2 linked regions of the Homo sapiens genome follow. The protein of the gene in region 2 binds, or shares a complex with, the protein of the main gene of each other region. Each region holds a gene or a part of one and is shown on either strand. Other genes may lie near its edges.

What was found.
Region 1: IMMT (region 2) and APOOL share a complex: the UniProt entries of both Homo sapiens proteins name them as parts of the mitochondrial contact site and cristae organizing system (MICOS) complex.

The regions. Positions count from the first base shown.
Region 1 is NC_000023.11:85,069,738-85,077,025, forward strand, and holds part of APOOL (MICOS complex subunit MIC27 precursor), read left to right. Parts: intron 1-4,260; coding exon 4,261-4,374; intron 4,375-4,536; coding exon 4,537-4,654; coding exon of another isoform or gene 4,655-4,663; intron 4,664-7,288. UniProt on the Homo sapiens protein: Component of the MICOS complex, a large protein complex of the mitochondrial inner membrane that plays crucial roles in the maintenance of crista junctions, inner membrane architecture, and formation of contact sites to the outer membrane.
Region 2 is NC_000002.12:86,185,321-86,192,608, forward strand, and holds part of IMMT (MICOS complex subunit MIC60), read right to left. Parts: intron 1-7,288. UniProt on the Homo sapiens protein: Component of the MICOS complex, a large protein complex of the mitochondrial inner membrane that plays crucial roles in the maintenance of crista junctions, inner membrane architecture, and formation of contact sites to the outer membrane.

The sequences.
Region 1 (7,288 bases), on a different chromosome or scaffold from region 2:
TATGTCTTCTACAATTTCCAGATTAGGTTCTTTTAAAATAGAATGAACAGTTAAAAACATTAAAAAAAATTGAGTGCAGAATCCTTTTAGATGTTTATTTCTCCCAGCTGTTATAATTGTCTTGCTCACCTCTAATTTCATAGCAGTTATTTTTTTAGCCATTCACATTTGAGTCTTTACGAAGCATTTAACTTAATTTTCCTAGAAACAATAATTCTTTTTAAACTCATATTTTATCATATTAAGTTACATTTAGACTGTTTAATTATAAGTAAAACTGATGCAGCAACTTGGGGAAAAAAGGAACTTAATAAGCATACTAATCAACTTGTGAAAGATAGTACCTTAGCATATTGGAGAGCACCTGATAGGGATGAATATTCAACATTCTACAAACATCATTTATAATAAATTAAAAAAACATTTTATTAATCAGTCAAGTCTCCTAAAAGAATGTCAGGTGAGAGCTTTTTAGTGTATCTGTGTTTTTCTGAAGGAAAGGGCCTATAGCTTTTAAGAGCTTCTCCAAGGTATCTGTGATATTAAAAAGTTTAAGAAATGATAAGTCTAGAAGGTCCTTTGAAAAACAAAAGACTCACTCCAGTTACTCATCATTTTGAAAATAGACTTCAAGATGGAATTACTCTTCGCTTTTTATAATTTTCCTCACAATATTTTTATTATTAACTTATGTAAAGAGTAGCAAGTAGTCTGTCTTTGAAAGCTATGAAATATCTAGGAATAGACTTACCAAATAATGTTTTAACGCCTGTTTAAAAGAAAAATAAACTATCAAACTTTACTGAAGGGTATTTTTAAATTTTCACAATATTTAATTGATGAATAAAGATTGAATATATTCAAGGTGTACAACATGATGATTTGACATACATATACATTGTGTAATGATTATTACAATCAAATTAACATATCCATCACCACCCATGCAGCACATTATATACCCAGAACTTGTTCATCTTATGACTGAAAGTTTGTACCCTTTGACCAACATCTCATTTACCTCACTGCTATCCCCTGGCAACCTCCATTCTACTCTCTGCTTCTATTCTGCGTATATGTCCAAAAAAAAAAAAAATGAAATCAGTATCTTGAAGAGATATATGCACCTCCATGTTCATTGCAGCATTATTCACAATAGTCAAGATTAGAAACAACCTAAGTGTCTCTCAGTAGATAAAGGGATAAAGATAATTTGGTACATATATACTACAACAGACTGCTATTTAACCATTAAAAACGGAAATTCTGCCATTTGCAATGGCATGGATAACCCAGAGGACATTATACTCAGTGAAATAAGATAGACACAGAAAGACAAATACTGTTTGATCTCACTTATATGTGAAGGATATTTAACAAAAAATCTTGAATGTCTTTGGGCATATATCCTGTTTCTCGATGAAAGACTAAATGTTGAAATACGGCGAGTATTTCAAAGTCTAGAAATTTAATTCAGTTCTTACAAAAGCTCTGGATTTGAATGGAGTGTGACATTCATTCATCTAGTATTTGTTGTCTGTCTACTGTGTATTGGTTACTATAGTATACACAATAAAATAGATCAAGAGGACAAAAGAGAATATCCAAACAATTATATTGAGTATATTTTTGTACACATGAGGGTAGGGGATTGATACGTGGTACAGGTGGCATTTCAGATCAGTGTGTAATGGAAAGGATGGATTTTTTTTTTCCAAGAAATATGTTGGGATAATTGGCTGTTTGTAGAATTACTCAGACCTTTACCAACTATCATGGGAAAACTAATTCTAGGTGGAATACAGATCTAATCATAAACTAGAATACTATAAAAGGTATGAGAAGAAATAAGAGGAATACCTGTTTAATCTTGAGATAGGAACAGCTTTCTTAAGCAAAATACAATCTAGAAGCCATTAAAGAAAAAGTTGACATATTTGACTACATCAAAATTAATACATTTCTGTAGATTACAATATACCATACACAAAGTTAATGGATACATGAAAAACTTGGAAAACTATTTGTAACATATATGACAAAGTACTAATATCCTTCATGTATTAAGAACTCCTGGCCAGGCGTGGTGGCTCATGCCTGTAATCCCAGCACTTTGGGAAGCCGAGGCAGACGGATCACGAGGTCAGGAGATCGAGACCATCCTGGCTAACACGGTGAAACCCCGTCTCTACTAAAAATACAAAAAATTAGCCGGGCATGGTGGCGTGGGTATGGTGGCGTGCGCCTGTAGTCCCAGCTACTCGGGAAGCTGAGACAGGAGAATGGGCATGAATCTGGGAGGCGGAGCTTGCAGTGAGCTGAGATCACGCCACTGTACTCCAGCCTGGGTGACAGAGAGAGACTCCGTCTCAAAAAAAACAAACAAAAAAAAGAACTCCTATAAATCAATGAGCAAAAGATGAATGTGCCCTCTGGGAAAATGAAAAAAGCAGTCTACAAAATAAGAAACATAAATGGCCTAATATATGTAAGATACTTGATTTCATCAACAAATAAATGCAAATTTGAAAAATCATTTAGATATTGGTTTTTAGCCTTTAAATTTGACAAAGATTTAAAAGACTTATAATATCACTGCTGGTAAATAGGGTAGGAAAACAGACATATACTCTTGGTGGTAGTGTAAATTGCTGCAGTATATTGCTGACTTTCTGGAGAGCAACATGGTAATACTGTCAAAAATTAATATGTGTATACGCTTCAGTGCAGAAATTTCAGCTCTAGGAATTTATCCTGAGGAAATACTATAAGGGTTATGGTCCCAGTTGTATGTATAAGGATGCTAATTTCATCATTGCTTATACTTGCCATCTCCCTACCCCCAAAAAGGAAAACAGCCCATATGCTCACCAACGGGATTTGTTAAATCATCGTGCCTCAATAGGGAATTTGTTAAACAAATTGTGGTGCATACATTATAGAATGCTAAACTAAGCAGCAAATTTAAAAAGTAGATCTACGGTATATAAAGTAATATAGAACCGTGCCTTTGAAATACTGTCAAGCTTTTAAAAAAATCATATCTCAGAATAATATGTGTACTGTGATCTCAAGTATTTGAAAAGGAAAACAAACTAAATACATATGTAATTTATTTTAAAATTTAATTGAAAACATAATTGAGATTGTATTGTATAATCTATTCTGTAACTTTTTCAAATTAGTGGTTCATCATGGACTTCCATTCATGCCAGTACATATAGATCTACTTCATCTTTTTTGAAAGATCTGTAAATATTAATATTACATTTGTTTTAAAATTTGTGTATATATAATGTATAGATGAGTAAAAATTGAGGAAGGATATATGTATAACTGTTAACAAAGGTTATATTTGGGGAGGAAGAGGAATTTCTTTATATTAGTATATTACTTAACTTTTCAACTGTAGGTATATACTTAGTAAAAACAATAAAAATATTTCTATTTGAGGATGGAAACATAATTTTTAAAAAATTTATGTTTGTAGAAATTATAATCCTGAAAAATACCTCAAAACATCTTCAAAACTTGAAAAATCAATGGCTGTTGAAATTACTTTAACTAAAATGAACAAAAGCATTGGAGAAGAATAGGAAAAAGAAGAAATCAGAAGTAGATTTTCAAAGAGAAATAGAGATGAATGAAAATAACGGTAACTTTAGGAATTCAGCCAGCATCCTGGCCTCTGCTTGAGTATATTTATCAGTCATTGTTTATTTTACCTTTCTACCAAAAAAGAATATTATTCTTTGGAGGAATTAGTTGATGCCTTTTATTTCTTTATGAATGGAGAAAGCACCATCAAATTTTAAGCAAAAGCATTAACTTTGTAGCATGTTAAAAATCTCATTTTCTCAGTCAGCAGTTTATTATCTCAAACTATATTCCCCAAACTCCTGTTAATAGACACAGTTTTCACTTATATCAAATCACCGTGTTATATACCTTAAATAGATACAATTTTATATATGTCAATCTAATCTCACTAAAGCTGAAAAAAATTAAAAAAATAGACATAGTTTTAAATTTATGTTACAATGTGAATGCAGATTATACATTTCTTATAACCTTTGCATGACACAAAAAATTTTTCATATAAGATTTTAGAAATGGTGCTTTGTGTTATATGATTTAGAGATTTATATCTTTATTGATTCTGACTTGAGTGTTCATATAAAATACCTGACAAATCTAAAATACATTTTTAATTTTAACTTTTAAAAATATGTTATTTGACTTACTTTTTGTTTTAATTAGGTAACAGCAAAAAAGGTATATGCTACAAGCCAGCAAATTTTTGGAGCAGTTAAATCATTGTGGACAAAAAGCAGCAAAGAAGAGTCACTCCCTAAACCTAAAGAAAAAACTAAGGTAGAGTTTACATGGAGCAAGACGGTCAACATTGAGTTTTGTTTGGGTGGGTGTTGGCTTGTAATGAGGGTACTGGACAGAGGTCGAGGATAAAATGAGAAAGTAGATGAAGGAAATAGTAAAATGATTTACTTATGAAGGAAAAATCTGTTTGGTAAACAGCTAGGATCCTCTTCCGAAATAGAAGTACCTGCAAAAACAACTCACGTCTTGAAACACTCAGTGCCCTTGCCAACAGAACTCAGCTCTGAAGCAAAGACCAAATCAGAATCCACTTCAGGTTTGTTGGGTATAAGTCAATTTTGTTTTCATTCTTTTCTTAAATAATTTGATAGCATTATCATTAGTGGTTTGAACTTAAGATGTGTTCTCCCCATAAATATTTTGTCTTTCTCATATCTGTGGTTTCTGTTTCTTTTTAGGTTATGAGGTACTTAAGTATCTGCAATTGCTTTAAATTATCACATAGTTCATAATATAGATCTTTTAATGTGAGTATATAGAGTAACACTGACAGGTTGATTAGGTGAAGCATTTAATATAACTTTATAAATTTGAGCTATTAGGTGGGGGAAAATGGGCCTTTCTAGATTCTGTAATTTTAAAGGGATGAGTCACACCTACATAAAGAAATGTCAGCTTCCATTTTTTGTGCTATTTACCTATCAGTCTCCCTGTCAATCTTAAGACTTTTATTTTTATTAAGTTTAGTTTTACTAAGTTTAGGCACCAAAAGAACTTTCAGCATCAAATATTAGAAATATTATCCATTATAATACTTATAACATTGCTAGTATTCCATACTGGCAATAAACACTTTGTGGGACCAAGCAGTGACAATTATACTTTCTAAACAAATACTGCTGTGATTTTACTGTGATCAAAAAGAAGGTGACAAAGTGTTTAATACCATTTTGACAATGTATTCATATTGATTTGCATAGGTTTATCTATATAGATACCTATATAGATATCTATATAATTACAATGTGAATTATAAAACCCGCTAAGTTGTCTTATTGCAAAGGAAGGTGGCTAATTCAGCGGTTGGGGAATAATAATAATATGCACCCTTTATCGAGCACATACTGTGATGCAGAGAGCTAGAAGTATATTATGTTATTCAGCCCTTACCCACAAAGCAAAACAAAAACCTCTGCTGGATCGGTAATTATTCCCATTTTATGATGAAGAGACTGAGACTCAGGGAGCTAAAATAAGTTGCCCCAAATCATATAGCTTGTGAGTAGCAGAGTTCTGTTTATGGCCTAGATCTTCTTGACATCAAAGTCTAAGTTCTTTCCATTGTCTATAGATTATCTAATTTAAAACTGGAAGTTAGTCTCTAATTTCAGCCTCCTCCTCTCACTTAATCTTCATAAAAACTGTCATTGAATAACAAACATGATATGAGTTTTACTATTTTCCTCTGTCCTCTCTCTTTTCTAATCAAGAGGAGCTATACAGTTTTTAGACTCTGAATAATCTACCAGTGACCATATTCTCACAAGAATATAATGTATGGTCATTTTTCCACATGCCTTTTAATTCCAGAGTATCTTTATGAAGATGAAACATACTACAGCTTAACAGTGGGACCAAAACCTTTCCAAGCTAATGTCTTTTCCTCACACATCTAGATTCTGGAACCCTTTATTTGCCTGTCTTGGGTGATGTGGTATATGAAAAGCATTCTATGGAGACAATGCAGAGGGAGAAAGAGATGCCAGTGCTACTTACTCATTCTTATCATAGATGTCTTGGTCAGTTTGAGCTGCTGTAAAAAATACCATAGACTGGGTGGCTTATAAACAACAGAAATTTATTTCTCACAGTTCTAGAGACTGAAATTCTGAGATCAGGGTGCCAACATGGTCAGGTTCTGGTGAAGACCCTCTTCTGGCTTGTAGACAGCCTACTTCTCATTGTATTCTCACATGGCAGAGAAGAGAGGGAAGCAGGCTCTCTCAAGATTCATAAGGGCACTACTGATCCCATTCACAAAGGCTGTACCCTCATCACTTCCTCTAATTCTAACCACTTCCTAAAGCTCTCCATCTCCTAATACCATCACAATGGGGGAGATAGGGTCTCAACATGTGAATTTTGGGGGGACACCAACACGCAGTACATAACAATATATCATTTGGCGTTTATTATACAGTATAACCTTGGGATTCACCATTTCCACGTTTCATATGTAGAATAAAACATTTTTTTTTTTTTGGCCATGAGAAACAGTAGTGATTGTGAGCACAGGTTATAGAATAAGACTTGAATCGAAATCCCAGATCCAGCATTTACTAGTTCTGTTACCTGGGGCAAGTTATCAAACACCTCAAGCCTCAGTCTCCTCATTCAACAAAAAGGGGACAATAATAGTTCTCACATGGTTGTGAGGATTAAGTGAGATATTGCATGTAAAGCACTAACTGTAATGCCAGGGACATACTAAGGGGTATCAGTGGATATTAAAATATATCATTATTATTATTTGCCTAGAGCAGTTAGCCATTTTGATGAGAAACAGATTTTCATTGAGCATACTTAAAGAGCAAGTCACTTACCTAGTGAGCCTAGCCATGGCTATAACTTATCACCATACAGAACAGGTAGGGTGTACTGTCCAACTATATGTTGTGGCTCTGAATATGAGTTTGGTTGTTCTCTACCATCTCATGTACATTAATGGAGAAAATTGCTATTTTGGGAATCACAAATTTAGAATTTGGTGTCATAGACCTCTTCAAGAATCTGATGAAAGCAGAATGAAATCTCTCACAGTCTTGCAAGATTAATGTCCCTCTAAAGCAGAAGTTGACAAACTATGGCCTGTATGCCAACTCTGACTATGTTTTTTTTTAGGTGATAAATTTGCTAAACTTATATATATATATATATATATACGTATATA
Region 2 (7,288 bases):
AAGAGTCAGGATTTGGTGGGTTCAAAAATAAAACTGCTTATTGTTTTCAAATAGATTCTCAAATAGAGAAGGGCTTCAAGCCAAAGATCAAATCTAGTGTGTGACCAAAAGATACTTTGAGATCTCAAAAAGATCTAAGGAGGTGCCCCTCAGAGAGTCTTTTTACCTTGAGGAAAAGGCCCTCTAAGAATCATAAGGATGTGTTTCCCAGATTCTATTGAATCAATAAGGTTACTCAGAACATTAAAGGTGTTACCTACAGCAGCCTCACAGGAAGCCCAAAATGGAGAAGGGCTTATCTTGATAAGATGTGTATCATGCATCTAATGAAGAAAATCCCATTAAGATTCACAGGAAACCCACAAACTTGTTGAGAATTGTGTCAATAAAAAACATGCTGGCTTATATTTAAAGTGAAAAAGAGGACAAAATGAAAAGAAGCTTCTAGACAAACTTCTACAGACAGGAAGTAGGCTGTGAAACAATTCAGCTGTAACAGACAACATATTCTGGAAACGGAAGAATAATTCAAGTGTAAAACCAGGAGCCCAAAGGGTAGAACCAAGAGCTGAGGAGAATCATTCCCAAGCAGTAGGACTGAGCTCTCATCAAGGAATTAGAAACATAGGGCCAGCTGAATTTTACACTTGTTATGGAATGGTGACTGCTGTGTGCCTCTTAGTTTCTGCCTTTTTGAATAGGAGTGTCTAGAGTGATTATCCTGTGTCTGTCATACCACCATATGCTGAATGTATGGGGAGCAGATAATTTGTCTCTTTAGTTTACAGGGCTTTAGATCACCAAAAAAAGTGTTTAAGAAGCTATACCCTAGGGACCACATTCAAGATGTCTTATCCATAGTAGGATCTGATTCAGATGACAAGATCTTGTTCCTAATGCTGATGCTTTGATGGCATTAGACTCTGGAGAGTCTTGGAGAAGGTTGTGAGTGGGAGGGATGTGCATGTGGGAGGGATGTCAGTTGGGTCCAGAAGGCTGAGGATAATATCCAAAATTGACTGCAACAATACTTCCTATACCACATGCTGTTCCAGAAACGTGCCCCTCTCCCAACAATAATAAGTTTTATGTACACTTCCCTTAAACAAGGGCAGGCCTTTGTTACTAATTCACTAATAGAAGGCAGTGAAAGTGATGCTCTGTAACTCCTGAGACTAAGACATAAAAAGGATACAGCTTCTACCTAGCTCTGCCTCTTGTCACACTTGCCCTTGGAACCCAGCCACCAAAGTGTATGGAAGTCCAGACACTTAAAGATGCCACAGATGGGTGATCCAGCCAACAGTCCCTGCTGAGGTGTCAGCTGCAGCCAGTATTTACTGCCACACATGAGAGTAAAGAAGACTTGGGGATGACTGTAGACCTAGTAACTATCTGACTGCAACTTCATGAGGGTCTCTGAGCAAAAATTTTCCAGAACTGAGTAAGGCAATAAATACTGTTATTTTACCCCAAGCTCAAGGTGGCCTGTTATGCAGCTGTAACTCATAAGAACAGATCTTTTTAAATTCATGGATTTAAACACTTTTGATGGATTTCAACCATTTGTAATTACTGTCTTTTTGCTCAAATTTTCCTATCTTGGGCCAATGGAAGCCTCTGCAAGTTTAGGGTGTGTATGTGTGTATCTAGCTCTGGCTCTATACTTCCGGCCATCTGCAAATACCTGGTGGCAGGTATTTTTTTTTTCCTCTATGTGACAAAATCCCCTTAACATAAAATTCACCATTCTAACCATTTTAAAATGTACAATTCCACGGTATTTAGTACATCCACGATGTTGTACAACAACCATCACCACTATCTAATCTTAGAACATTTTCATCACCCTAAAAGGAAATCCTATATCCATTAAGCAGTCATCCCCCATTTTCCTCTCTCTCTGGCCCCTGGCAACCACCATGTACTTTCTGTTTCTATGAATCTGCCTGTTTGAGATATTTTGTATAAATGGAATCACACAATGTACATCTTTTTGTCCAGCTTCTTTCACTTAGTGTAATGTTTTCACGATTCATTCACATTGTAACATGTATCACATATGTAGCTTGTACTTCATTCCTTTTTATGGCTGAATCTAATATTTTATCACGTAAATATACCATATTTTGTTTAACCAGTCATCAGTTAATGGACATTTGGGTTGCCTCACCTTTTGGCTGTGAATTGTGAATAATGTTGCTATGAATATTCATCTAAAAGTTTTTGTTTGAACACCTGTTTTTTATTCTTTTGGCAGGGAACTTCAAGGTCATATGGTAATTCTATGTTTAAATTACTGAGACACAGCCAGGCTCAGTCGCTCACGCCTGTAATCCCAGCACTTTGGGAGGCTGAGGCAGGCAGATCACCTGAGGTTGGGAATTCGAGACCAGCCTGACCAACATGGAGAAGCCCCGCGTCTCCAGTAAAAATACAAAATTAGCTGGGCGTGGTGGCGCATGCCTGTAATCCCAGCTACTCGGGAGGCTGAAGCAGGAGAATCCCTTGAACCCAGGAGGTAGAGGTTGCGGTGAGCCGAGATCGCGCCACTGCACTCCAGCCTGGGCAACAAGAGTGAAACTCTGTCTCCAGAAAAAAAAAAAAAAGTTACTGAGACACCACTAAACTATTTTTTCACAGCAGCTGTACCATTTTACATTCCCACTAGCAATGTATGAGGGTTCCAATTTCTCTATACCCTCACCAACATTTGTTATTTTCCATTTTTGTTTTGAGATGGAGTTTTGCTCTTGTCGCCCAGGCTGGAGTGCAATGGCGCAATCTCAGCTCCCTGCAACCTTCGCCTCCCGGGTTCAAGTGATTCTCCTGCCTCAGCCTCCCAAGTAGCTGGGATTACAGGTGTGTACCACCATGCCCGGCTAATTTGTTATTTTCCATTTTTATTATAACCATCTTAGTGGTTGTGAACTGAGTATCTCACGGTTTTAATTTGCATTTCCCTAGTGTCAAAGGATGTTGAGCATCTTTCCATGTGCTTCTTAGCCATCTGTATATCTGCTTTGGATGAATGGCTATTCAAGTCCTTTGCTCATGCATACACATACACGCACACACGCGCACACACACACGCACACAAATACATATATGTATATATGTGGAGACAGCATCTCACTCTGTCACCGAGACTGGAGTGCTGTGGCACCATCATGGTTCACTGCAGCCTCGACCTCACAGGCTCAAGCAATCCTCCCACCTCTCAGCCTACCGAGTAGCTAACACTACAGGTGCATGCCACCACACCCAGCTAATGTTTGTATTTTTTGTAGAGACAGAGTTTCACCATGTTGTCCAGGCTAGTCTTGAACTCCTGCGCTCAAGCGTTCTGCCTGCCTCAGCTTCCCAAAGTGCTGGGATGACAGGCATGAGCCACAGAGCCTGGGCCCTTTGCCTGTATTTTTATTTGGGTAGTCTTTTTTGTTACTGAGTTGCAGGAGTTCCTTACCTAAAAAGAAACACCTCATCAGATATGAGGGTCTAGTATCCAAAATATCTAGTATCCATTAGAATACTTTCATCCTTTTCACTCTCAAGTATCCCTCTGATGCACAAAAATTTAAAATTTTAATGAAGTCCAATTTATCTTTAGTTTCTCTTGTTGCTTGTGCTTTTGGTGTTATAGTTAAGAAACCATTGCCAAACATAAGGTCTGTCTCCAGAGCTCTCTTAAGTACTAAACTATTAACATAAACTAAATATCCTACATTAACACACAAAATATTGGCTACTTTTTTGTCCTGGAATTCCTTTTTATTAATAAGGACCTATGACATAGAAAGGACAACACTGTTTCAAAGCAATCTGTCTAGACATATGTTATAAGGTTAGCCTTGCTGCTTCTAACCCGCAGAAACGTGATATTAAAAAAAAGAGGAAACATATAATTCCCATGTAATGTTCTTTTTTTTTTTGAGATGGAGTCTCGCTGTGACACCCAGGCTGGAGTGCAATGGTGTGATCTCGGCTCACTGCAACCTCCATCTCCTGGGTTTAAGAGATTCTCCTGCCTCAGCCTCCCGGGCAGCTGGGATTACAGGCACCTGCCACCACACCCGGCTAATTTTTGTATTTTTAGTAGAGACGGGGTTTCACCATATTGGCCAGGCTGGTCTTGAACTCCTGACCTCAAGTGTTCCGCCCCATGATTAATGCTGTTACACAGACCATCTGTTCCTTAGCTCTACCAAACTAAAGTGAAGACATAAAGAAACCACAATCTAGCATGACAACCTGGACATGGAGCCTGTAGTATGAGCTGCCTCATGTGAACTCTAACTAGAGGTTCCAGGTTTCCTCCACAGACTGCTGGTTGCTGTCAACTGATAACGTTTTTGTGGATCTTGTCATACATAAGGACTCCTCCCACACAAACGAAAAAGGCACCCATAAGTTAATGGGCAGTTCTACATTTGAAATATAGATTGATATACAACAAATTAACTTTTTCTACTGTTAATTTAAAATAGTTTATAAGAATCATGCATTAAGGTTAAAAAGTATATCCCACAAAAAAATCCAGTAAGTTTTTACATTGAAATTTTACATTTTACATTACAATTTTACATTGAAGCAGCATTACATTTCAGTATAAACATATTCTATTCTAGGAGAACACGTGCTCTTTAGTTATAGAAATGGCAGATACTTATCAGTATGACAAAAGCAGGAACTTGACACTTTAGTTTTCCCTGCACATATGTGAATATATTTTGTATGTTATCACTTCGGTGTAGTAAGTTACGGCGTAAGATGTATTTCAAAATGGTTTGAAGGCTACTGGTCTAGAGATATGAAAAAAGGAACAATGAAGAGGATTCTAGCATGGGTAGAAGCAAACACCTGGCCGCATGATCTACTAAACTACTTTCTAGCACGTGTGGTTGGCTGCCTATCTCTATCACTGAGTAACATAATGTTTCATAATCCTAACAGAAAGAAGGAATTCTAGAAGATGATAGCTCATGTCCACACACAAGTTCAATCCTAAACTAGCTGGGTTATCAAACTTGGTCTTAAGTAAGCTGGAGCGGTTGATCCTCAAGAATAATAATGTTTCTTCTTCTTCTTTCAAGTTATAAGCAGGAAAGACTACTCCATATGTAAATGACCACTTCCAGGTTTGTAGTTTGAGAGAAGGCTAGGCTAGGCGGAAAGCCCATGTCCTCCAAACTCAATGACCACTTCAAAAAGGCTGGGCCTGGTGATGCAGTATTGGGACTAAGAGAAGAAAGATGGTGTTAGGTCTGAGGAATAAAAGAAGAAAACAAAAACAGAGGGACCAGAGTTCTAAAGCACATTTACTGAATACCCACATCTAAGGAATGCAAGGATGATAAGCCCAAACATAAAGAATAAGGCAGATACTGTGTCGGGTGCAGTGACTTAAGCCTGTAATCCCAGCACTTTGGGAGCCCAAGGCGGGCAGATCACGACGTCAGGAGATCGAGACCATCCCGGCTAATATGGTGAAACCCTGTCTCTACTAAAAATACAAAATATTAGCTGGGCACAGTGGCACGTGCCTGCAGTCCCAGTTACTCGAGAGACTGAGGCAGGAGAATTGCTAGAACCCAGGAGGCGGAGGTTGCAGTGAGCCGAGATTGCACCACTGCATTCCAGCCTGGGCAAAGAATAAGGTAGATACTATCTGTGATGGTTCATTTTATGTGTCAACTTGGACTGTGTTTTTGGATGAGATTAACATTTTAATTGGTGAACTAGTGGCCAGGCATGGTGGCTCACTCCTGTAATCCCATCACTTTGGGAGGCAAAGGCGGGTGGATTGCTTGAGCCCAGGAGTTTGAGACCAGCCTGGGTAATATAGCCTGTCTCTACAGAAAAAAAAATACAAAAGTTAGCTGGGTGTGGTGGTGCATGCCTGCAGTCCTAGCTACTCAGGAGGCTGAGGTGGGAGGATGGCTTGAGTCTGGTGGATGGAGGTTGTAGTGAGCTGAGATTGCACCAATGCACTCCAGCCTGGGTGACAGAGCAAGACCCTATCTCAAAAAAAAAAAAAAAAAAATTTGCCCTATAACATGGGTGGGCTTCATTCAATCAGTTGAGGGCTCAAAAACAACAAAAAGCAAGAGGCAATTCTCTAGCAGACTGCCTCCAGACTGAAACTGCACCATCCACTCTCCTGGGTTTCCAGGCTGCTGGCCAGCAGACTGCAACTGCAATATTGGCTGTCCTAGGTCTCCAGTCTGCCAAACCACACAGCAGATTCTGGACTTGCCAGTCTCCATAACTGTGTGAGTAGAGTCCTTACAATAAATCTTTCAGCCAGGCGCGGTGGCTCACGCCTGTAATCCCAGCACTTTGGGAGGCCAAGGTGGGGGGATCACAAGGTCAGGAGATCGAGACTATCCTGGCTAACACGGTGAAACCCCGTCTCTACTAAAAATACAAAAAAAAAAAAAAAAAAAAAATTAGGCGTGGTGGCAGGCGCCTGTAGTCCCAGCTACTTGGGAGGCTGAGGCAGGAGAATGGCATGAACCCGGGAGGCGGAGCTTGCAGTGTGCTGAAATGGCGCCACTGCACTCCAGCCTGGGTGACAGAGCAAGACTCCATCTCAAAAAAAATTAATAAATAAATAATAAATCTTCCTAGGCTGGGCACTATGGCTCACGCCTGTAATCCCAGCACTTTGGGGAGGAGAAGGTGGGGATATTGCTTGAGCCCAGAAGTTCAAAATGAGCTGGAACAACATTGCGAGATCCCATCTCTACTAAAAGTCCAAAACATTGGCTGGGCATGGTGGCATAAGCCTGTAGTCCCAGCTACTCAGGAGGTGAGGTGGGAGGATCGCTTAAGCCCAGGAGATTGAGACTGCAATGAGTTATGATCACACTGCTGTACTCCAGCCTGGGCAACAGAATGAGACCCTATCTCTACACACACACACACACCCTTATTGTTTCTGTTTCTCTGGAGAATCTGAATATATAATCAGAGGTTTGAAAATCTATGGGATGTTTAAAGGGAGGTCACATCCACTTACACAGATTAAGAAAAATTCCACTTTGGGAGGCCGAGGTGGGCATATCACTTGAGCCCAGAAGCTGAAGACCAGCCTGGGAAACATAATGAGACCCCATCTCTAAAAAATCTTTTTAAATTAAAAAAAAATTCATGAACACATTCATTCTTTCATTTATATATGTCATAAACATTCACTGAGCATCTACTTGGAGCCAGGGACTATTGTTAATACTGGAAATACAGCAGTAAATATGGACACAGTTCCATTGTGGAGCTTACTTTTTAA